2 separate regions of the Homo sapiens genome follow, and region 1 is linked to region 2. The links come from fine-mapping of genetic effects on gene expression. A gene starts in region 2. The other region holds a variant in brackets. All regions are shown on one strand. Distances are from middle to middle. Region 1 overlaps GGA2 (golgi associated, gamma adaptin ear containing, ARF binding protein 2). Region 2 holds the start of UBFD1 (ubiquitin family domain containing 1).

Region 1 (8,000 bases), 66 kb after region 2:
CTTCCAGCTGTCTGCCCACTGGTCTGATCCTGTAGATCTGTGATAAGACAGCTCTTGGCCACCATGTGTATGGGGAGGGGTGTAAATTTCTTCCTATTATGTACTCTCTAACTTTATTATTTATTTGACAGACAAAGCCACAGACCCAAGCATGTCGGAACAGGATTGGTCAGCTATCCAGAATTTCTGTGAGCAGGTGAACACTGACCCCAATGGGTAAGGTAACTTCTCACACACATAGTTGACTCTGGGGGCACCCCACACTGAGTGTAGGCCTTTGTCTCTCAAGACTGTTTTAGGGTTAAGCTCTCTAGGCAAGGATCGGTGGCTCATGCCTATAATCCCAACAGTTTGGGAGACCAAGGCAGGAGGATTGCTTGAGCCCAGGAGTTTGAGACCTGCCTGGGTGACAGAGTGAGAGACTCTGTCTCAAAAAAATAGAAATGCAGTCAGGCTGGCATTCATTCTCTCATTTTCCCCTATAATCCTGAGAACATTATTTTTCTAAAATTAGCAAATTCATGTGGGGGAAAAAAAACACAGGATAGCTCACTTGCAACTGGCAGTTATTAATTTTAAATACTGTTATAAAACACTAATGCTGAGGAGAACTCTGAATGTTACTGATAGACTATAGACACGTTACCTAATTAAAAGAGATCTGTGTATTCTCCACCATTTAAATGTAATTTTAAGAAAAAGGAAAAGGGGAAGGTTTTATTGAATTCTGTTTCCACAGCATCTGGATAGGACCTGAAGAATCAGAATCAAGTGAGTCATCCAGATGTTTTGTTTTTGTTTTGTTTTCTTTTCTTTTCTTTTTTTTTTTTTCCTGAGACAGAGTGTCTCAAGACTGGAGTGCAAGGGCACGATCTCAGCTCACTGCAACCTCCACCTCCCGGGTTCAAGTGGTTCTCCTGCCTCAGCCTCCCAAGTAGCTGGGATTACAGGCGCGTGCCTCCATGCCTGGCTAATTTTTTGTATTTTTTTAGTAGAGATGGGGCTTCACCATGTTGGCCAGGCTGGTCTCGAACTCCTGACCTCAGGTGATCCACCTGCCCTGACCTCCCAAAGTGCTGGGATTACAGGCGTGAGCCACTGTGCCTGGCCCATCCAGATGTTTAATCTGTGTGGTGTCGCATATTTGGCCAGTTTGAACCCAGAGTTTGATCGCACTTTCTGCTCTAGCATTTCCTAGGTATTTATCACAGCCATACAGGGCCTGTGCTGCTGTGGCTACTCATGGGACTGGGCTGGGACTGGCAGCTTGGAGTTTGGGGGCTGGGGGTTGGCTGAGGGGAGGGCAGTGTGCCCTGGGCAGGAGGAGGACCTTGGGTGCTGTAGGTGCAACCAGGGTGGGTGCGAGGTGGCCCTCTCCAGGGCCCCCGCGTGGCCTGTTTGTCAGGCACGCTCCACCTCTGCTTTTGGACACCAGCCCCTGGAAGAAAAGTGATTTTACTGAGCATGCTCAGCCACTCGGGTTAGTTTCTTTTTGCCCGCCCAGAGTCTAGGTCTTTTTGTTTCCCTGTAGCCCCACACATGCGCCCTGGCTACTGGCCCACAAGATCCAGTCTCCGCAAGAGAAGGAAGCTCTTTATGCCTTAACGGTGAGTTTGGCTTGCCTTGTAGCCTAACCTTTCCTGTCCTTGTGCTATAGAGAGCCGAGAGGCGCTTTGCTTCCACACAGATCCTTTTCACTGGAGAAGGGAGGTCCCCTGAGAGGTTTACCTTCACAGCAGGTTGGAGGAGGGAGATCTGGGCCAGGGTCCCCACCCTTCTTCCTCCTGTTTCTCGTCTGTTTCTTCAGGGCAGCATTGAGTCTACTGTGGGAGAAGGAAAGGAAGGTTTTATTTCATTTGCCCTTCTTAGACCAGGGCTGGCAAGTTCATGTGCCTTTTCTAGAGAGGGCAGTTCTAGCACAGGGCCCACTAGCTGTTGGCAGGTATGAGTATGGGCTCAGGGTTGCTAGTTTAGGTCTTTGTATATGTTTGAGTGTTTAGATGTTGGTGACTAATTTGCAGTGTTGAAAGCCACAGTATGGACGAGAGGAGGGGTCTGCAGGCTCAGCTTGCCTCTTGAGTGCCAGTGGGTGACATCCGGCTGGTCTTGGGCACTGGATACCAGATCTCTGCCTCTGGGGAGGGGTTGGTTCTTTAGCCACTTTCTCCTCTCAAAGGGTCTCCTTAAAAGGTGGGGTGACCTCAGGGTTTGACATACCTCACTAAGCTATTTCCTGGGCATAAACCTCAGGCAGTTATAGCAAGATTGAACAGGGGACATTTTTTTCTTGATCTGAAAACGTCCTCTTCATCAAAACTTCAGTGTCCTCATAGGCTTGAGGCAGGGTTAGCCTTGGTTCCAGCGCAGTCTCCAGCAAGTGATTACCAGCCTGGAGGGGAGCCTGGGACCACTGGCTTTCCACCTTCTCCTGGGGGTCCTGTGTCTGTGCAGGTGCTGGAGATGTGCATGAACCACTGTGGGGAGAAGTTCCACAGCGAGGTGGCCAAATTTCGTTTCCTGAACGAACTGATCAAAGTGTTGTCCCCAAAGGTGAGTACCTGGGCTTGGCTCTGCTGACTGTGTCGCACCTACGCCCACTGTCAAACTCCTGGCTCCCTCCTCAGGCCAGAGGCAGGCCCACGCATGGACAAAACCTGCTCCTGCCTGTGAAAGAAGCGCTCTCCTCTCCAAGCTCTAGGAAGAGGCTCTGCTCATTAGCTGACCCCTGCCCCTCACTGTTAGCATTTTCACATTTCCCTTTTAAGAAGGCCTGGGGAACGTGTGGCCTAGAGGAGATGAGGAACTCCAGCTTGGAGGCACAGGTTCCTGATAGAGACAGTGAGAGATCCCAGGGGTGGCGTGAAAGTTTCCTATCACCTCCTGCCTTGTCCTCTGTACCTGTCCTCCTGGCACCTGTCTTAGCTCAGCCAGTCTCAGGTAACCAACATTGAGCCCTGCCTTGTTGTGTTCCCACAACAGTGCCGATGCTGGCCATGGGTCCTACAGTTCATTTCAGTTCTGACACTCCCCTGAGTTGCATGCTACCCGGACC[C/A]CACGCAGTGAGGGCTCAGTGCTGCTTAGGCTTCCTGTGTTTCAGCTGCCAGCCGTGAGTCTCATGTGTCCTCAAGCTGCTGCACTTCTGCATCCCCAGCTGCAGATTCAGGGGTTCCTATGACCCCCACCGCCCCATATTCCATAATTCCCTAGAATGATTCACGTACACAGGAAAGCACTATACTTTCTATCCCTGTTTTATTGTAAAGGATACAAATGGAAGCGATACATAGGCAAGGTCTTGGTGGGGCAAGAGGGGACAGAGCTGCTGTGCCCTCCCCTGGACTCTGAGCTTGCCATCCTCCCAACGTAGGTTCAACTGAGAGGCTCTCTGAGCTTCCTTGTTTCAGTGTTTTCATCTGAGGTTTTTTTGTTTTGTTTTGTTTTTTTACACATCATTGCTGGCTTGAACTAGCACTAGGTTTTATTACCTAGGCATGATCGGTCAAATCATTGGCCACATAGTTGAACTCAATCTCTAGTTCACACCCCCCTGCCCGCCCCACCACCTCCACAGGTGGGGGGATGTGGGGGCACCGGTCAGGGGATGGGGCTGAAAGTTTCAGCCCTCTGATCACAAGGTTGATCTCTTTGGAGTGGCCAGCCCTTGAAGCTCTCTAGGCACTCACTGTAAGTCATTAGTGAAAACTCAGGTGCACCCTGCGAGTGTGTCTCTTGAATAACAAGACACTCTTGTGACTCAGGAAATTCCAAGGATTTTTGAAGTTCTGTGCCAGGAACGGAAACAAAGACCAAATTTTATTATTATATTCTTGTCCAAGGCAAAAAATGACTGTCCCCAGTGGTGTAGAACAGGCTCTGACCCAGGCTCTTGCATGGTGGGGTTTAGTGTGAGTATTGCCGAGATGAATTCCTTGAATCCCAGGAAGGGCTCCGGGGCTGGGCGCCAGATGGTGTGGCCTCTAGTCTCTCCTCACACTCATACCGCGCCTGGGAGCTTGTGTCTCTGGGCCTCAGCAGCTACCTCTTTAGTTAAAGTGTCGGTCTCCCAAGTCCCTTCCAGCTCTAGAATTCTCTTTCCTTTTTACTTTCAGTACCTGGGGTCCTGGGCCACAGGAAAAGTTAAAGGAAGAGTCATTGAAATACTCTTCAGTTGGACAGTCTGGTTTCCGGAAGACATCAAGATTCGAGACGCTTATCAGATGCTGAAGAAACAAGGTCTGACTTGCCTTACTGTGTCTTATTTCCTCTTGACTAGGCCTGTATCTTCTTGCTTTTTCATCTGCCTTATAATTTTTTGTTGAAAGCTGTACTTCTTATGTAGGACCATAGACACTGAGGTAGAGTTTTTTTTTTTTTTTTTTACGCAATAAATCTTTTATCTACTTACCTTTAAAAGCCATAGTGCAAACCTGGAAAGATGATGTAGGGTTTGCTTTTTTCCCTGTTGCCTGGAAATCATAGGAAACCACAGCATGAAAAAGGTCAAAATACAAGCTACCTATGTCACTAAAGCACTTATTTATCTTTTAAAAGACTTGTTTGCCTAAAAACTAACCTTTTGGTTTTTTTTTTTTTTTTTTTTTTTGAGACAAGGTGTTGCCCTGTTACCTAGGCTGGAGCACAGTGGTGCAGTCATGGCTCACTGTAGCCTCGACCTTCTGGACTCCAGCCATTTTCCTGCCTCAGTCTCCCAAGCAGCTGGGACTACAGGCGTGTGCCACCATACCCAACTAATTTTTTCATTTATTATTATTCTCCCACCCACACCCCAACACACACACACAAACACACACACTCTCTTCCTCTCTCTCTGTCTCTGTCTCACTTGCTGTCTCACTTACACCAAATATTTGTATTTTTTGTAGAGACAGGGTCTTGCAATGTTACCCACGCTGGTCTCAAACTACTGGGCTCAAATGATCCTCCCACAGCCTCCCAGGCGTGAGCCACCATGCCCATCTTTAACCTCTTTTCCTGAAATAGTGGAACCTTACTATGAAGTACAGATAAATGCTACCTATGAGCTAGAGTTTGAAAAATACTATTGTGATAAAAGTAACAACGTGCAGACATAAAATATTTTATAGTTACAAAAGATCTTTCAGTAATCATTTAGTGGATTTATTTTTATTTACTTCTTTTTTTTTTTTTTCTTTTGAGACAGAGTCTCACTCTGTTGCCCAGGCTGGAGTGCAGTGGGGCGATCTCTGTTCACTGCAACCTCCGCCTCCTGGGTTCAAGTAATTCTTGTGCCTCAGCTTCTCGAGTAGCTGGGATTACAGGCACCTGCCACCATGCCTGGCTAATTTTTGTATTTTTAGTAGAGATGGGGTTTCACCACATTGCTCAGGCTGGTCTCAAACTCCCAACCTCAAATGATCCGCCTGCCTCAGCCTCCCAAAGTGCTGGAATTACAGGCGTGAGCCACCGCTCCCGGCTGTGGATTTATTTTTAATTGACACATACTTATACACATTTATTGGAGTACAATGTGATATTTTGGTACATGCATACAATGTGTAGTGATCAAATCAGGGTAATTGGCATATCCATCAGTGAGGTAAGGAGTTTTTAATCCCTGGAATTGGGTAGAGCTTTCCTTTTGGTAGACAGGATTTGAGCTGGGTGTGAGATTTGTTGTTGCTGTAGTTACTATATCAGACTTCAGATTCCTCTAGTGTTAGCTGATGTTTAGGTTGGGGGCTAGCTAGTTTGTTAGTTTTCTTCAGTATCTGTTCTCTCAGCTGTAGGTCTTCACTTTCCTCTGCACCTCAGAGAGAGCCTTTCTCCTTGTTCTTGCCACTCGTAGCAGTAGACAGCCATCCCTTGTCAGAGGGATAGGGTGGCGGGCAGGGCCAGTCTCTGTTCTGATTCAGCCTGGTTCTTAGGCAGGCACTGCATCCTGGGTCTTGGTAGGATCTGTTTGTGATCCTGCCTCACCCCAGTGTAGATCTGGGCCCAGGACATAATTCCTGCTCCTCCTCCAAGGGTACTAGGGTTTGTTTTTGTTTTTTCTCCCCTGTTTTTTCTCTAGCTGCAGTGGGTTCCACCGGTGCTCTAAGGCTGCAGGGTTTGTTACTCTTCTCCCCCTAATCCCGCCTTCAGGCCTTCCCGCTGTTTTCGTGAGCCTCTGGAGAAGAGCTTATTTTCTTTTTGTTGCAGCCTCCAGAAATTCTGTATTCTCTTGGTAGCTCACACTGGCCTGTAGACAATTTTTAAATAATTCTAGCTTAGTTGTTACTATTGGTATTGCCTTTTGTCAATCCTTGGAGGTTGTTTTTTTCCTTAGATTTCAGGTTACTTGGTTGTTGCCCTGTGATCTGGGCTCTCTGATGTATTCAGGGAAGCTGTAGGCTGGGCATGGTGGCTCACGCCTGTGATCCCAGCACTTTGGGAGTTTGAGGTGAGGAATCACTTGAGGCCAGGAGTTTGAGACCAGCCTGGGCAACATAGCGAGACCCCCATCTCTACAAAAAATTTTTTAAAAAAATTACCTGGGTGTGGTGGTGCCCACCTGTAGTCCCAGCTACTTGGGAGGCCAAGGTGAGAGGACTGCTTGACCTTAGGAGTTTGAGGCTGCAGCGAGCCATGATCACACCACTGCATTCTAGCCTGGGAGACAGAGCAAGAATCTGTCTCAAAAACAACAAAAATATTGTGAATTTGCACACTTTCCAGTGTTTTGTTGTTGTCACGATGGGGGTGATAGTTCCCACCTTTGTGTGTCCTGTTTGGAAGATGGGAATCTGAATTCCTTTTTATGTTGGGCTCTTAAAAGAAGGAACTCAGGTTCAGGATGGACTGTTGTTCCCTGTCACATACACTCAGCATTTTCAGGAGCTTCATCAGGGACCCTCCAGAAACTTTTGATCCCTGGGAGGTTATGTAGCTGGATAAACTGATCCATGCTTTTACAGCATAAGGCCCACAGACTGCAGGCCTTCAGGACTGGCTCTTCTCTGACATAGTTGGCTCTGCTGTCCCGGCCACCATGGTCCCTTGGATTCTCCTAAGAGATGATGCAAAACTTCGTTCATACACTGGGTGTTGTCTTTGAAGGCTGTTGACAGTGCTTTGCTAGCATGGTATTAGGAACCAGGGGTTTCCAGACTTTATACTGGATTCTGACTGAAGTTTCTGGGTACCATATCGGTGTCTTAACTTTGTAAATTGCATTTTTAGGAATTATAAAACAAGACCCTAAACTACCAGTGGATAAAATCTTACCCCCACCATCTCCCTGGCCCAAGAGCTCCATCTTTGATGCTGATGAAGAAAAGTCCAAGGTAAGGAAACAGACCTACATGGTGTCTGATCAGACCTTTTCTCTTAGGCACTGTAAATGCCCTTTGATGCTTGAATCGGAGTATGGAGGGGGGCAGGTTACATGGGTTCTCCTCTCCAGACAGGCCCTTAGGAGTGAGGTAGCAGAAGGTTTGGGTGCGTTCTTCATGGATAAGTCAACTAATAAGGGCCAGTCTGTTTTGATTCAGCCTGGTTCTTAGGCAGACACTGCATCCTGGGTCTTGGTAGGATCTGTTTGTGATCCTGCCTTACCCCAGTGTAGATCTGGGCCCAGGACATAATTCCTGCTCCTCCTTCAAGGGTACTTTGTGCCCTCTCCCTTTTGTGCACAGCCTTCCTGGGGGAAAGAAGGTGCAGAAGGATAGCCCGTGGGGAGTGTGGGTGATGGATGGGTCATGTCCTGTGTGGGTGTGGTGTTGGGGTGGGGACAGTGGAAGAACTTGCTGCTGTGTGTTGCTTCAGCTCTTTCTCAGTGCCAGTGAGCCCGGCCCTATCCATTTTCCATCCACCATGAACTCCCCAAACCGTTATTCCTTGGACATCAGTATCTAGAGGGACAAGAAGAAGAAGGTGGCCAAGACCCAGGGATAACTGTGGTGCCTGTGAGTGGGGAGCCCTTTGGCCTAGTGCTGGCGGTGCTTTTGGTCATGACTGTTCTTGGTCAGTCACAAGGTCTA
Region 2 (15,720 bases):
GTCAGAAGACATTGAGGCGAGTTTAAGGAGGATGGCAGGTAAGAGAAGGGGGCAGCAAGGGATGCCTGGAGTGAGATGAGACTGCCGGGAGTGAGCCAAGTGAAGCGGGACTGGGTGAGGTCAGGGGAGGCGAGGTGCACCTGCACAAGGGGACATGGCCATCCTGGAGCAGCAGACACCTCAGGGACGGGGGCGCAGGGGGAGGGGGGCAGGGAGGCTCAGCAAACAGCTAAACCAAGTGGAAAAAAACTTGCAGCCTTTGCAGAAAGAAAAATCTGGAAAGATAGAGTCTAAAAATAGATAAGTTGGCCAAACAGACTAGGAATTTAGAGACCAGCGTTCTGGTCTAGCTGGGGACTTAAGACATTTTACTTCAGTTCTGTGGGCCTCAGTATCTGAAAAATGGGGGCTGGGGAGAAGGGACCTGAAGATGTTTATTTAGGTTTGGACTTCTAGTGGCTCTACAACAGTCGGCCCTAAAGCAGGACCTGGGCAGCAGCTGTCTTTAAGATGGAAACTTTTAAAACACCTTTCATCCTGAAATGTCTGGAGATTTCACAAAAATATACAACAGATTTCTGGCTTCTCTTGAAAACTCCAAAAATTGGGCAATTCTGGACCCACACTCCTGATCACTACATCAGACCTTCAGCCAGATTCAACTTTCCTACGAGCAGGGTACATGCTCTCCTCCAGCGGCTTCCGGTTTCCTGCCTGGAGCTTGTTCTCATTCTTTTGAGGCTGTTAGAACTGCCTCCTCCTACACAAGCTAGCAGAGTTTAGTCAAGAGTAGCAGCCCTTAAGGGTCACTTACTCAGCAAAGCGCCCCACGAAGAGGCCAACTCGCTGCTGGGATGGTCATTCCATAGCCGCTTCTTCTTGCCAGCAGAAAGACGAAGCCAGTGGCTAGCAGCCAACTCCCAGAACAAGCTGTCCTCTTATGAGTGCTTATGACACTTAGGTAACAGGACTGGGCAAGTGACAAGACTGCCTGCCCCTTGGGCTCCAGAGGTACAGTGCTATGGGTGGGAATGAAAATCTTAACCTTGTTCAACCCTAGAAAACATGAGTAGTCCATGGCCATGCTCCTCAACAAGACTGGTGAGTAAGGAGGCTTTCAAGGGCTCAGAAGCCCCAACATATTGAGCTTCTTCTACAGCTCTCCCTTTAGGCCAAAGCAGGAAGGCGGCTGCTCCTACTAGCAAAAAGAAAACTTCCAATACAGGGTCAGGAAGTTCTTGTTCTGTCAGTTCCTGCAGTTATGATGTGTTCCCTATACAACTTCCTGACACAGAAATATTCCCCAAGGAACCAATGAGCACTTACAGACTTAGTTCCCATCCAGACTTCTCTGCCTGCACCTATCTTCATGGCAGGGTCTTTCCAGGTCAGCCGTAGCAACTGCCTTCAATGAGGCTGCCCACAAGCAAAAGTAGAGGTCCAGCAAGAGGCAGGAAGTCTATGCACTTCAGCAAGTGAATGTGATGAGACAGAACTAAGCAAAATCACCTGCAAAGTTGACAGAGGCTGGGCAGCTTACTACTGATAAAGGGAAGATGGACAGGCTCTACAGAAGAGAATGATCTAGCAGAGGGTTCAAAGGCCCTTGCAAAAACTGGGGGGAACCCTCAGATATTCTGCAAAACTTGCTTTGACCATGCAGTTAGAGTTGAATGTGAAATGAAGAAAATAGCAAGTTATCATAAAATTGATAGAAAACTCAAGCATTTTTGGCATTTCAATTTTTGTTCATTTTAACAATCAGTATAGGGTTGAACACTGATTTTTGTGTTTTAGATGATTAAAAACTCTCTCTTCCCACCACCCCTGCCCCAATTATTCTCCATAAAACTTGGTCCCATTTTAAGTGGAGTCTCACTAAATGGTCTGTCCCTGAAACCAGTGAACGTCAGATGATGGGACCCCCTATACTTCTCTTTAGCATTTACCTCGAACACTGAATACCTACAGTGCTGGTCAGAAACAGGTGATTTAGGCATGTTCGGTTCCCTCCAGGAATCTAACAGGGGGACAGACAAGTCAGAGAGTAATGAGTGCTCTGGGGATATAAACGAAGCGCTCTATGAACAGAAGCGGCAGCAAGTCATTTGGAGGGTGGGGGGAGAATCAAGGAAGGCTTCATTCAGAGAGGACATTTAAGTAGGGCCTTGGAAGATTTTATTAATAACAAGGAATGGGAAAAAGGCATTCCAGGTAAGGGCACAGCATGAGCAAAGACAAGGAGCTGTGCAAAGCACACTGGGAGCTTCACAGAGAGATGCGGCTAAAATACACAGGGGACCACAGGGCAAACGGGCCAGAAGCTGGAACCAAAATTTAAACTAAGGCCCAGTGTTGAGAACACTGAACGCTATGGTTAGGCATTTGAATGTGTCCTTAAACAGCCAAAGGTCCTTGAGCACGGGTACCCAGGATAAAAAGCAGTAGGTAAGATGGACAGGACAGAAGAAAACACAGATGGGGCAGTGAAACAGGGTAACTCGCTTTGAACAGACCAAGTTTAAAGATGCTTGGGAACTTTAACTGGCACAACAGTGTGGCAAAGAAAGGGACAGACAGTTCTGCAGTGTAACTAACAAGACTTTGTAACCATCTGGGGGAAGGGAGAGGGAGGACAGTCAGAGACACTTCCCAGCAAACAGCAAGGCTGATCCAGACACCGTGCACAGGCGGGGGTGGGGCAGGCAGAGGGCAACCAGGCGGGGAGGGAGAGGCAGATTCCTCGGCAGCGGTTAGGAAAACTTCACCTACTATAGGGTCAAACTCTGACCTACAGGGGCCAGGCAGGTGACAAATGAACAAAGCTGGCTACTTCTAAGATAAATGGGACCATGAAGACTGTAGTATGGCCCACTGGAAACCACCACTCGGCTCTAGTGGATCGATGCCATGTGAGAATGCAGGCCCCAAAGGGCCAGATCATTTGAGTTTTCAAGAGAAGCCAAAAAAAAAAAAAAAATCAGATTAGTGAAATCTCCCAATTTTTACAGATTGTGTGTCATCCCACAAAACATTTTTCTGTGGACCAGATTTGGCCCTTGGGCCACGTGTTTGGGACCCCCAAATCTGTGTGCAACTGAAGAGCCACTGTTTGGTGGATCAGCCCTAAGATCAGACTGAAAACAATGAGGGAAAACGGTCCAAACAAAAGGCGAGCATCTAAAAGCAAATTTAAAAGCCAGAAGCAAGCAAAGCACAGTGGAGAGAGAGGTTTCAGAAGGAGGGGTGAAATCGCACTCTAAAATGTGAGTGCTGCTGGGTGCCAGAGGCAGGCAGTGGGCCAGCAAGGAGGCGAGGAAGAACATACCTTTAGTGCCAATCCACAGCTGGTCTTGTTCTAGTTTAAAGGTGAGTCTCACTTTTCCTCCAGATTTATTGTACATGCCGGACAGCGGTACCGTTGGCAGGCGCTCCTGAAGGCACGAGAGAATGGTAAGAGATGGAGGGACAGTCAGAAAAAAAGAGAAGGGGGCCAAGCGCGGTGGCTCACGCCTGTAATCCCAGCACACTGGGAGGCCAAAGCGGTCAGATCACCTGAGGTCAGGAGTTGGAGACTAGCCTGGGCAACATGGTAAAACCCCGTCTCTACTAAAAATACAAAAATTAGCCAGGTGTGGTGGCACACCCCAGCCTGGGTGACAGAGCAAGACTCTGTCTCAAAAAAAAAAAAACAGGGAAAAAAGAGAAGGGACAGGATTGGAGGAACCTCAAGTCAGACGGTGGGGCTGCCTCATTTTCAGAATGCTCACAAAGAAATCCGCCTTACCTGGGCCCCCTTAACAGATGGCATCACATCTTCAGGTTTTCCTTTATCCAACACTTTCCTGTGTTGCTATAAGTCAGAAGAGAGAATGAAATGAAACAGCTGACTACATTTCGTCGTGTTACTATTCCCTTGAAAGAGAGGATGAAGAAAGCCTTAGTGTTTTGGCTCAAAAGCTTTTAATGACGACAGACTATGGATCCTTTGAAACTATAGCACAGTGCTGTCCAGCAGAACTTTCTGGGAGGGCGAATATGTTCGTACCTGTGCTAGCCACTACCTACTGCTGTGACTATTACACACTTGAAATGCAGCTACTATGACTGAGGAACTGAATTCTTAATTTCATTTTAACCAGCCACATGTGGATAGCTACCATATTAGATATCAAAGTTCTACAGCAAACGGGATTTCCAGATTGCCCTCCTCCCCTCAAAAAAAAAAAAAAAAATCACCACTGAAATGATTAAACCATCAAACTAAAGAGGGCGACAAAGGGTGTTGCTCTCCTAGCAGACAAAAAATGGCACCCACCTTTTTCAACTTAAACTTCCAGAGAACACTATAAGATGCTGGTAATCCGTCTAACTGCCTAGGAGGAGCAGTTCTTCAACAAATGGAGACCCAGCCCATCGCCGAAGTTTTCCCCACTGCCCTACCCTTAACTCCAGCTAAACAGGAACCTGGAAGAGCCACCTTTCAGAAAGAAATGCTTATTACTCTATAACCTGACATTAAGAAGCCTCTAAACTCCACCCCTACCACCTGCCCCAAGAACTCTGAGGCAGCTCTTCAAGGATTCTAAGTTCAGGGCCCCTTAAACAGTTCTCCTGCCTGGCCCAAATGCCTGAGTCTTCTTTCTTCTCCATCTGTGGCCTTATAGGCATAGCCACTGCTTGGAAGGCTGGAACTAGGGGACAATGAATGGATAGAAGGTAACAATTTAATCAAATGTAAGCACTAGGCAGCCACAAGCCAGCCCAAATCCTCACTGGCATGGTGGAATCCCTCTGGGAGGAATAAACTCAGCACTGCCAGACTGCTAGCAAAAAGTCACTCCAGACATCACCCCCAGACCCCTTAATAAGCTGGTAAAAAGGCAAGGGACTATATCCCTCTCATTAGGTCATGTGATGCATCATAATTGGCCTCAATGAAACACAGCAGCATGGGCTGGAAGTACAATTCGAGTCACACCTTTCAAGTACCTTTTGAACAAGATTTCCTGTACTGTGGAGAACAGTTCTAAGCCTGTTAAGCTACCATTAGTAACTAAAAACCTGTATTTAGGAGGCATGTTATGCTCCAAGGGTGTGACCATTGCGACCACTCCTATCTGACGTGCTCACATTTCACTATTTCATACATGTGGCAAAGAAAAACAGGAATATGAGAAGAAACTCAATCGGTTTCAAGACACTGAGACCCCATATGTGGGGGTGAAGTCTCCAAATCAACACCTTTTAGATAATTAATATAGGTTTATAACCCCTTATCTGAAACCCTAGAGTTTTGAACTTTCAGGGTTTTGGAATTTTTATAAAGATAATATTGCTTTCAAATACATAACAATCTTCTCTGTGGGGTCTGGGGCAGTACCTTGTCACCAAAGAGGAAAATTCACACTAATTCTGGTCAGGTTTTGCTGTTAAATTTATAAAAACACTTCTCGTTTTTATACTCCTTTGGGGTTTTGGAAGCACACATGGGGGATTATGGATCTGTAACACAAACTGTGTCCTTTTCTTACTGTTGGTCATATATCTTAGTGTCTATGGTCACTAAATGATGTTGATTGAAGTTTATCTACTCTACTTCAGACACAGTTGAGAATACCTGTCTTCCTTGGAACACTAGGAAGAACGATCAGGAGGCTACACAGCAATCAGTATAATTTGCCAGGTAAAAAGATAACAAGTAATGATTCTTACAACCTGTTCCTTCCATAGTAAAATAATCTCACTTTTCCTCGTTACGTGAAAGAATGTTAATGGCTATGATGAGCACAAGACAAGGCAGGATCTCTTGCAGCCAAAAGAACAGAGAACGTAAAAAACCAAGCTCCTATTTCACAGATCAGGACAAAAAAATAAATAAACAAATCCATCAGTGTAGTTGTCTTCCTACTCAGCTTCATTTAGCTTCCTGAAACGGTCAGCTTTAGGGGAACCTCCGAGAGTTGTTGATTTCCATGCCTAGCCAGGCTTGTTGACTTGGGGAAAGCCACAAACCAAAAAGCCAAATGTAAGCACTTGTACAAAATGAGGGCTTACTTCTAGTACTGGTAGTTTTCTCTGGCACTAAATAAGAGAGAGAAACCCACGTCTGATTCCTTTCAACACATGGTCTGAAGCCTCCCTTTACCAAGGTCTTATCCTAAAGTAGGTAGACTTGAGACACACTGACCCGCCAGATGAGACAAAGTTGCAAATCTCAGGTAGTTGTCACCTCCACTCTGCGGCACCCAACTGCTGCCATAAATTTCCATCATGGGCCCTGTCCAAAAAGGAGCTTATTCTAGGGAGAATATAACCAGCCACGGCTCAAGAGGACAAAGCCTCAAATTTCTCAAGACCAAGAAGCACAAGATGGACTCACTTTCTGCCTGCAGAGAGGCTCCTTCTTGTTCTCTTCGGCCTTTGCATCCTGCTGCGCAGCATCTTTGGGTGTGTTTACTGCTAAAACATCATTGATGGTGGAGCCAACCACCATGATCTTGGCCCCACTGGTCACTTTTATTTCTCTCAATGTTTTATCCTCGGGGACGAGTCCCTTATACATGACTTTCTGCATGGCAGGCGGGAGACCTTGGGAAAAGGTAGAAGGTGGACAGTGAAAGGAAGGAAGGACAGAAAAATGTATGGATACTACACAGCTCTTTGGTAACAGACCAAAAAGTGAATACTGCCTCCACCACCTATTAGCTTTGTGAACTTGGGAGATTTACAACCTCTGAACCTCAGTTTCTAGAACTGTAGAAGATTTATTAGAGTAAGTCCTTCTGTACAGACCTGTTTCAAGGATTAAGAGACCAATGCGGGGCATTTAGTACGGTGGCTAGCATTGAATAATTGTTCAGTAAGTACTAGCTCTCATTCTTTCCAAGTTGTTCCTCAGTCATCTAAATCATTCACATATTAAGTGAGAATCCACAGGCATCAGAGCTACAGAAGCCAATAGGGACAAAACTCCTGTTCTTAATGGAGATTACAAGGCTACATGTAGAAAGCTTTAAAAAAAAAAAAAAGTTCAAGGCCAGGAGTGATGGCTTATGCCTGTAATCCCAGCACTTCGGGAGGCCGAGGTGGGTGGATAAAATAAAAAAAACTAGCCCGGCGGGGTAGCGGGCACCTGTAATCCCAGCTACTCGGGAGGCTGAGGCAGGAGAATCGCTTGAACCTGGGAGGCGGAGGCTGCAGTGAGCCAAGATGGTGCCAGTACACTCCAGCCTGGGCAACAGAGCAAGACTCCGTCTCAAAAAAAAAAAAAAATAGGAAAAAGAAAAGAAATCTCAGATGGCAAAGAGCTATGAACAAGGTAAAATTAAGAAACAGAATCGACTGTGAAGAACCAGCATCAAAGTCAATAGCAGCGTTTCCTAAACTTCACTTAGAAGAATTACCTAAGATATTTGCTAAAAATAAATTCCTGGCTACATCCCAGACCCACTGAATCAGAATCTCCTGGGAAAGGGCCCAGAAGCTGTAAAACAAGCGCCTTAGGTGATTTTTTAATTAGAGATGTTAGAGCAACATCAATGAGAAACTGGGGCCTAAACGTCAGACTTCGGCTTTAATCCCAGCTCTGCAACTTACTAGCTCTATAAACTTGAGTCTCTTTCCCCAGCTGAGTAATGGGCATCCAAGTATCCTTCAGAAGACTGCTGTAAGGATGGGGGGACCTGATGCAAGGAAAGCCACCAGGTGCCTAGTAGGGTGCAAGGGCCATCAGGAGGCGGGGTGGGGAAGACTGGCTGTCAGCGCCACAGGAATTACCTGTAATCGAGTGGATCTTCTGTTTCAGCTCGGAGCCTGTGCTGTCCAGGGGGAACTTCACGTCATGCTTGGTCTTATTCCAGATGATCTTCAAGTCCACCAGCTCCCTGCCCGCGCCGCCGCCCGCGTCTTCGCCGTTGCTGACCGAGGCCTGGGCTGCGGGGTCCCCAGGGGGCTGGGCCGGGGCCGGCTGCAGGCTGCCTCGTGCGGCGCCGGAGTCCTCGGCCGCCGCCCCCGCCGCGGCTTCAGCCTCCAGGCAGTTGACGGGCCGCGCGGGAGCCTCAGTAGCCACAGTCTCGGCCTCCGTGTCCATGCCAGGTTCCTCCATGCCTGCAAGGGGGTTAGGGGGTGGGCGCTCGCCGCGGGCTGGGCTTGGGAACGGACGCTGTCCGGGCGCCGCCGGACCTCCGTTCCCGAGCCGCGGTTCTCCCTCCCGGGCCGGGCCGCATCCCCCAGAGGAGCGACCGCAACCTCAGCCCCGGCCCGGCGCCCGCCACCCCCGCCGCACTCACCATCCGGGGCCCCGGCCGCCGCCATGATGATTGTGTACAACACCCACCGCTCCCGCAGAGGCCGCTGGGAAGAGGCGAGCTGGCTGAGATTGGCCCCCGCAGCAGCCCCTAATCTCTCACAGCCCGGCCGGAAACAGGTGGAGGTTTCTATGGAGACCCGCCTCCTCCGCTCCCAGGTCCGGCCCCTGCCACGCTTTCGCTTTCCCAAGCTGAAGGGGGCGGGTCCGGGAAATAGCCCTTTCTCTGGCCTCTGCCCCCTGGTGGCGAGTGCGGCCGCAGCCGTCCAGGGGGGCGTGGGATTTCGCGCTAGGGGGCCTGTGACTTTAAGGGGCAAGGCTGCGCTGGCTGTGGCGGAGGCCGATTGGCTGGAAGCAGTCCCCGGAAGTGACGCAGGGAGAAGCCCACGTGTGCTATTCCATCCCACATGGCGGCGCTCCTGAGGAGACTGCTGCAGCGCGAGAGGCCTTCGGCGGCCTCTGGCCGCCCCGTAGGACGGCGCGAGGCCAACCTGGGCACTGATGCCGGGGTTGCGGTGCGAGTGCGGTTCGCTCCCAGCCCCACAGGTAACCCTGGCGGACGTGACGCTACAGGCCGAGGCCCCCTGTCCCGTCTCCGCCCCACGAATGTTCCCGAATGAATCCTTTCCGGTGGTGTCAGAGTGGGCGGGCGGAGGAGGGTTAAGGCAGCGCGAGCCCATTTTACAGAGGCGGAAACTGAGGTGCAGGAGCGGAAATAATTCAAATTGCCAGGAGTTTCTTGTGTTTTTTGTGCCATCCCATCTCTTTCGATCTTTTTTTCATGCATTCCATACATGTGCATTGATGACAACCTGTGTAACAGGTGTTGTAGACGCTGGGATACAGTGATCATTGAGAAAGGTAGGGGCCTTGCTCTGTGGAAGTCTGCATTCTAGTGGCTGCCGCAGACACTTATAAAAAATAAGTGTAATTTTAGAGTCACATGTGCCATGCGGGAAGTGAAACAGGATAGGAGACTGGGGATTAAGAAGGACGCTCCAGAAGGCTTTACTGAGCAGGTAACATTTGAGCTGAGATCCAAATGACAAGAAGGAGCACGCTATGTGAAGCCTATAGAAGGAACCTTCTGGAGGCCAGGCGCGGTGGCTCACGCTTGTAATCCCAGCACTTTGGGAGGCAGAGGTGGGTGCATCACTTGAGGTCAAGTGGATCACTTGAGAGCCGTCTGACCAACATGGTGAAGCCCTGTCTCTACTAAAAATACAAAATTATCTGGGCATGGTGGCGCATGCCTGTAATCCCAGCTACTTGGGAGGCTGAGGCAGGAGAATCGCTTGAACGCAGGAGGTGGAGATTGCGGTGAGCCAAGATCGCGCCATTGCACTCCAGCCTGGGCAACAAGAGCGAAACTGTGTCTCAAAAACAAAAAAGAAGGAACCTTCTGGGTAGAGGAAATCGCAGGTACCAAGGCACTGTGCTAGTGCTGTTGGGAGCTTAGCAAGCTAGAGGGTGACAGAGGCCCATTGTATAGCCTGTTGGAGATCTCGTCAGGGCCTTTTGGTTCCCACCAGTAAGGCTACCTTCTACGTTCTCTACACGGAGTATGCCTCTCATCCCAAATCCCAGGATGAACATACAAAGATCTTTGTAGTAAAATCCCAGCTATACATGACAGGATCTTTCTGGCAGGCAGTATAGCCTAGAGCAGTGCCTTTCAAACCATCTGTTGTGGAAGTGCTGGTTTTAAATTTCCAATCAATTGTGTATCAATATTTGCACAAAATTAATATAATGACCAGAAAAATAAAATTTTGAAAACATCCAAAATACAAACCAATCTCATTTTATTTGGGTTAGCAGAGGTAAAATCATTCTGCCAGATTGCTATGTAAGTTTCGCCTGGCCAATATGGCAAAACCTTGTCTCTACTAAAATACAAAAATTAGCCGGGCATGTGGCCCAGGCCTGTAATCCCAGCTACTCAGGAGGCTGAAAATCGTTTGAACCCAGGAGAAAGAGGTTGCAGTGAGCCGAGATCGTGCCACCGCACTGCAGCCCGGGTGACAGAGTGAGACTCCATCTCAAAACAACAACAAAAGTTTCTAAACCTTTACTCTCAGTTTCTGTACTTGATTGTGAACTGACAACTGTTTTCAGACCAGCACTGGATTGCACACTTTGCTTTGAAGAGCACTTATGTAGAATGCCAAAGCCTGGGATTGCCTGGGTCCAAATTTCTGTCGTGGCCACTTATTAGATGTGTAACTTACTAGATGTGCAAATTATTATTGTTATTTTGAGACAGGGTTTGGCTCTGTCTGTCGTCCAGGCTGGAGTGCAGTGGTGCAATCTCGGCTCACTGCAACCTCAGCCTCCGGGGCTCAAGTGATCCTCCCACCTCAACCTCCCGAGTAGCTGGGACTACAAGTGTGTGACCACTACGCCCAGCTAATTTTTGTATTTTCTTGTAGAGATGGGGTTTTGCCATGTTGCCTGGGCGGATCTTGAACTCCTGAGCTCAAGTGATCCACCTGCCTTGGCCTCCGAAAGTGCTGGGATTATAGGTGTGAGCCATCACACCTGGCCTAGATGTGCAAATTATTTAATGAATCTGAGCCTCAGTTTCACCATTTGTCAAAACGGGGCTAATAATAATATCTGTCTTATGGGGTTAAGCTCATGCAGCCGAACCACTTAGTAAGGTCTAGTACACCCAGAAAGCACTTAATACACAGCCTCTATTATGATGATTGTACTTCTCATTTCCTTGCTCATTTGCGGGGAAAGCCCATGTGGGAAAGGCTTTTGACTATAAACAGATAAAAGAATTATCAGGCACAGATCATTACAGTAGCTGAAATTAATTGAGGGTTTACTTTGGTCAGCATTTAGACCTCAGAGCAACCCTATAATAAAGAAGGTTCTTATTTTTTTGCTCTTAATCCCTCTGACAGATGAGGAAATAGAAGCTCATAAAAGTTAAGTAGAGTTCCTTCTCAAGGGGTAGCAACTAATAAATGGTGGATGCAGAATTTGAATCCAGGTGTACTTGATGTAAGAGGCTTTGTTTTCAGCAGCTGGGTTCCTCTTTTGTCTTGGGGACTCGTGGGACTCAGTGCCACTGAATACCACTGGTTTTCTGGTGTCCTTGCAGTAACTATCCGAAGGTTACACACATCAGTGTTGAAGCAGGGTCGGCCTGGCCCCAGAAGAGCTTTTTCTCTCCTCTGCTGCCTCTTGTACTTGTAAATGTAGATGAGCTCATTGTGGAGACTTAGGGCTGTGGGCTGGTCCGAAGAAGGTACGGTAAGAGGTAATGACAACTCTGGAAAAGCTGTTAACTTTCAGTTTTCAGACAGGAATGATGAAAAAGGCAAATCTTAGGAGTTTAAACTGATGAAGAGAAATACAGTGGAATCAAACACTACTTTTGGTTAGTGTTTAAAGCCAGCAATTAGGGTGAAAATCTTGGCAAGGCATGGTGGCTCATGCCAGTAATCCCAGCACTTTGGGAGGCTGAAGTGTAAGGATTGCTTGAGCCCAGGAGTTTGAGACCAGCCTGGGCAACATAGTGAGACCTTGCCTCTGCAAAAAAAAAACCAAAAAACAAATATTAGCCGGGCATGGTGGTGTACACTTGTAGTTCCAGCTACTTGGGAGGCTGACGTGGGAGGATTGATTGAGCCTGGGTGGTTGAGGCTGCAGTGAGCCGTGACTGTACCACTGGACTTCAGCCTGGGCAAGAGTGAGACCCCATCTCAAATTTCAAAAATGAATTTTGTTTCTTTAAAAAAGTAAAAATCTCAAGTAGATGAAATTTAAAATGTACGACGTGGACAGTCATGCACACTGCATAGACTGCATATGCAAAATGTGATTTTTTTTTTTTTTTTGGAGATGGAGTCTCGCCCTGTCGCCCAGGCTGGAGTGCAATGGTGCGATCTCGGCTCACTGCAACCTCTGTCTCCTGGGTTCAAGCAGTTCTCCTGCCTCAACCTCCCAAGTAGCTGGGATTACAGGCGCCCACCACCATGCCCAGCTAATTTTTTTTGTGGTATTTTTAGTAGAGACGGGGTTTCAACATGTTGGCCAGGCTGGCCTCAAACTCCTGACTTTGTGATCCACCCGCCTCGGCCTCCCAAAGTGCTGGGATTAAAGGTGTGAGCCACCATGCCCCACCGATTTTTTTTTTCTTTGTAGAGACAGGATCTCACAATGTTGCCCAGGCTGGTCTCAAATTTAGAGACCCAGGTGATCCTCGTGCCTCTGCCTCCAAAAGTGCTGGGATTAGAGGTGTGAGCTACTGCACCTGGCCCACAATATGATTGTACAGTATTTTAAATTTCTAGTTTGTTTGTAATTAATTTTTTTCCCAGCGCACATCATTGAATTTCTGTAAGTTAAATGTACATGATATGGCCTCAATGAATAACTCTCTGCTTCTCTTTCAGGCGAAACTTGGCCTTGAGACAAATATCAAAATAGAGTGGTGGATGCAGTTGGGGAAAATTGGAGCCTTTTAATAAAATGACATGCTCCAAATCCTGGGTGGTTTCCATTTTCAGGATGAGGGATTAAATGTGTCTGGAGACAGGGCACAGGGGTAACTAGTTCTTAGTCTTTGAAAAAAAATTTTTTAATTTTTAATTTTTTTTGTTTGAGACAGAGTCTCACTCTACTGCTGCCCAGGCTGGAGTGCAGAGGCGTGATCATGGCTCGCTGCAGCCTCAGCGTCCCCAGGCTCAGGTGATCCTCCCACCTCAGTAACTGAAACCACAGGCATGTACCACCATGCCCAGCTAAATTTTTATATTTTTTGCTAAGACAAGGTCTCACCATGTTGCCCAGGCAGATCTCAAACTCAGGCCAAGCACAATGGCTCACGCTTGTAATCCCAGCACTTTGGGAAGCCAAGGCAGATGGATCACTTGAGGTCAGGAGTTCGAGATCAGCCTGACCACCATGGCAAAATCCTATCTTTACTAAAAATACAAAAATTGGCCAGGTGTGATGGCTCTTGCCTGTGATCCCAGCACTTGGGAGGCCGAGGCTGGGGGGATCACTTGAGGCCAGGAGTTCAAGACCAGCCTTGCCAACATGGCGAATGCCTGTCTCTACCAAAAATACAAACATGTAGCTGGACGTGGTGGCACACACCTGTAATCCCAGCTACTCGGGAGGCTGGGCATGAGAATTGCTTAAACACAAGAGGCAGAGGTTGCAGTGAGCCAAGACTGTGCCACTGCACTCCAGCTTGGGTGACAGAGTGAGACTCTTGTCTTAAAAAACCTACAGGAACCTCCTGGGCTCAAGTGATCCCCCCGGCCTTGGCCTCCCAAAGTGGTAGGATTACAGGCGTGAGCCAATGTGTCCTGCTGGTCTTTTAAATTTATTGCAACATTCTGTCACAGTAGTGCTTACTTGCCCCTTGCTGAGGCCTATTAGCTTATCTTCCCTGTCTTATCTGAGCTGTTCTCTTCTCCAGGCTTCTTGCACCTGGGTGGCCTCCGCACTGCCTTGTACAACTACATCTTTGCTAAGAAGTACCAGGGGAGCTTCATCCTGAGGCTAGAGGACACAGATCAGACTCGCGTTGTGCCTGGGGCAGCGGAGAATATTGAGGACATGCTGGAGTGGGCAGGTAAGCCTGGCAGAGAAAGGATCTTTCTGCAGGGAAGGAACAGGAAGCAGGAAAAGGAGCCTGTGGGTCTTCTCATGGAGTTCTGAGTGGAAAATGGGGAGTTCCTGGAGAAGTGGCTACATTTGTACTGCCCTGCCCGGGGTGGCAGATGACACCTGAAAAAATGCCGAAGCTCTCTGAAACACAGCTCCAAGACTGGTTTCTTTATTTTTATTTATTTATTGTTTTTGAGACAGAGTCTTGCTCTGTTGCCCAGGCTGGAGTGCAGTGGTGCGATCTCGGCTCACTGCAAGCTCCGCCTTCCGGGTTCACGCCATTCTTCTGCCTCAGCCTCCAAGTAGCTGGAACTACAGGCGCCCGCCACCACGCCCGGCTAAGTTTTTTTGTATTTTTAGTAGAGACGGGGTTTCACTGTGTTAGCAAGGATGATCTTGACCTCCTGACCTCGTGATCCACCTGCCTCGACCTCCCAAAGTGCTGGGATTATAGGCATGAGCCACCGCGCCCAACTTGGTTTCTTTATTTTTTAATTTTTTAGAGTCAGGGTCTCATTTTGTTACCCAGGCTAGAGTTCCATGGCACAATCATAACTTACTGTAGCCTCGACCTGGGCTCAAGTGATCCTCCACCTTAGCCTCCCAAGTAGTTGGGACTACAGGCACGCACCACCACGCCTGGCTAATTTTTAATTTTTTTGTAGAGATGAGATCTCACTGTGTTGCCCAAGCTATTCTCAAACTCCTGGGCTCAAGCAATCCTCCTGCTACAGCCTCCCAAAGAGCTGGGATTACAGGTGTGAGCCACTGCCAAGGCTGTTTTGAGATTCCTGTTTTCACCTCAGAATCTCAAGTTCATTCCCTACAGGGGCCAGGCAGGAAACACAGGGCCAAGTGGGAACTGGAGGAGCTGGGCCAGTGCTGAGCTGTGAAAACCACACCTCATCCAGAGTTGGGAGTGCCTCTGAGCTCCAGCTCCTTGTGCCCATGCGGGAATGCTGGCCCAGCTTGTCCAATCCTCTGAGTTGCAAGAGGAGCCAGAAATCCAGTTTTTCTGGATGAATACTTAACCATTATTAAATCTGGGCTCAGATTTTTTTTAACCATGTTGTATAAGCCACACAAAACACGTACAGCTTCTGAAGTTGATCTTGTGGGAAGTTTTATCCTGAGGACAGCTAAGGTCAGGGAGAACAAAGAGGAGTGTGTTTCCTTTTCATGGGTCGACAGTTGTCTACCTGTATGGACGGGTGTGACTAGGAAAGGGGAGATTCCCAAGGAAAAATACCAAGACTCTGCTAGTCTAGAGATTGAAAAAAAAAGAAAGAAAAACCCCAAGACTATTTTGAGATGTGTGTTCTAATCTCAGGTAAATTACTCACTAAACTCTGGATTCCTAAAGAGTATAAAATGGTTGGCCGGGCGTGGTGGCTCACGCCTGTAATCCCAAAACTTTGGGAGGCCGAGGCTGGTGCATCACGAGGTCAGGAGATCGAGACCATCCTGGCTAACATAGTGAAACCCCATCTCTACTAAAAATACAAAAAATTAGCCAGGCGTGGTGGCGGGTGCCTGTAGTCTCAGCTACTCAGGAGGCTGAGGCAGGAGAATGGCGTGAACCCGGAAGGCGGAGCTTGCAGTGAGCCGAGATTGCATCACTGCACTCCAGCCTGGGTGACAGAGTGAGACTCTGTCTCAAAAAAAAAAAAAAAAAAAAGACCATGTGCTTAGTGCCAAGGGAAAAGACAGATGAGTGGATTAATTATTTCTTTTTTTTTTTTTTTAACAAACAAAATCTTGCTCTGTTGCCCAGG

The links. PIP is the estimated chance that this variant, and not a neighbour inherited with it, causes the effect.
Region 1: its variant is fine-mapped to the expression of UBFD1 in fibroblasts (GTEx, PIP 0.92).

Annotation. Positions count from the first base shown.
Region 1 is chr16:23,487,910-23,495,909 of GRCh38, reverse strand. It overlaps GGA2 (golgi associated, gamma adaptin ear containing, ARF binding protein 2), which reads left to right. Exons shown (of 17, transcript NM_015044.4): 2 at 132-216; 3 at 1,532-1,607; 4 at 2,452-2,550; 5 at 4,110-4,233; 6 at 7,201-7,304. Among named protein-coding and RNA genes, the nearest start is that of GGA2, 19 kb to the left of the region's middle. The variant C/A (reference allele first, on the strand shown) is at 3,053.
Region 2 is chr16:23,550,339-23,566,058 of GRCh38, reverse strand. It overlaps UBFD1 (ubiquitin family domain containing 1), which reads right to left and starts at 8,332. Exons shown (of 7, transcript NM_019116.3): 1 at 8,292-8,332; 2 at 7,780-8,109; 3 at 6,383-6,591; 4 at 3,788-3,853; 5 at 3,329-3,434. The coding sequence starts at 8,316. EARS2 (glutamyl-tRNA synthetase 2, mitochondrial) reads left to right here and starts at 8,709. Exons shown (of 9, transcript NM_001083614.2): 1 at 8,709-8,854; 2 at 13,755-13,910. The coding sequence starts at 8,716. RefSeq lists silencers at 7,910-8,089, 8,190-8,279 and enhancers at 7,447-8,090, 8,350-8,549, 8,091-8,735, 8,740-9,019, 9,380-10,024.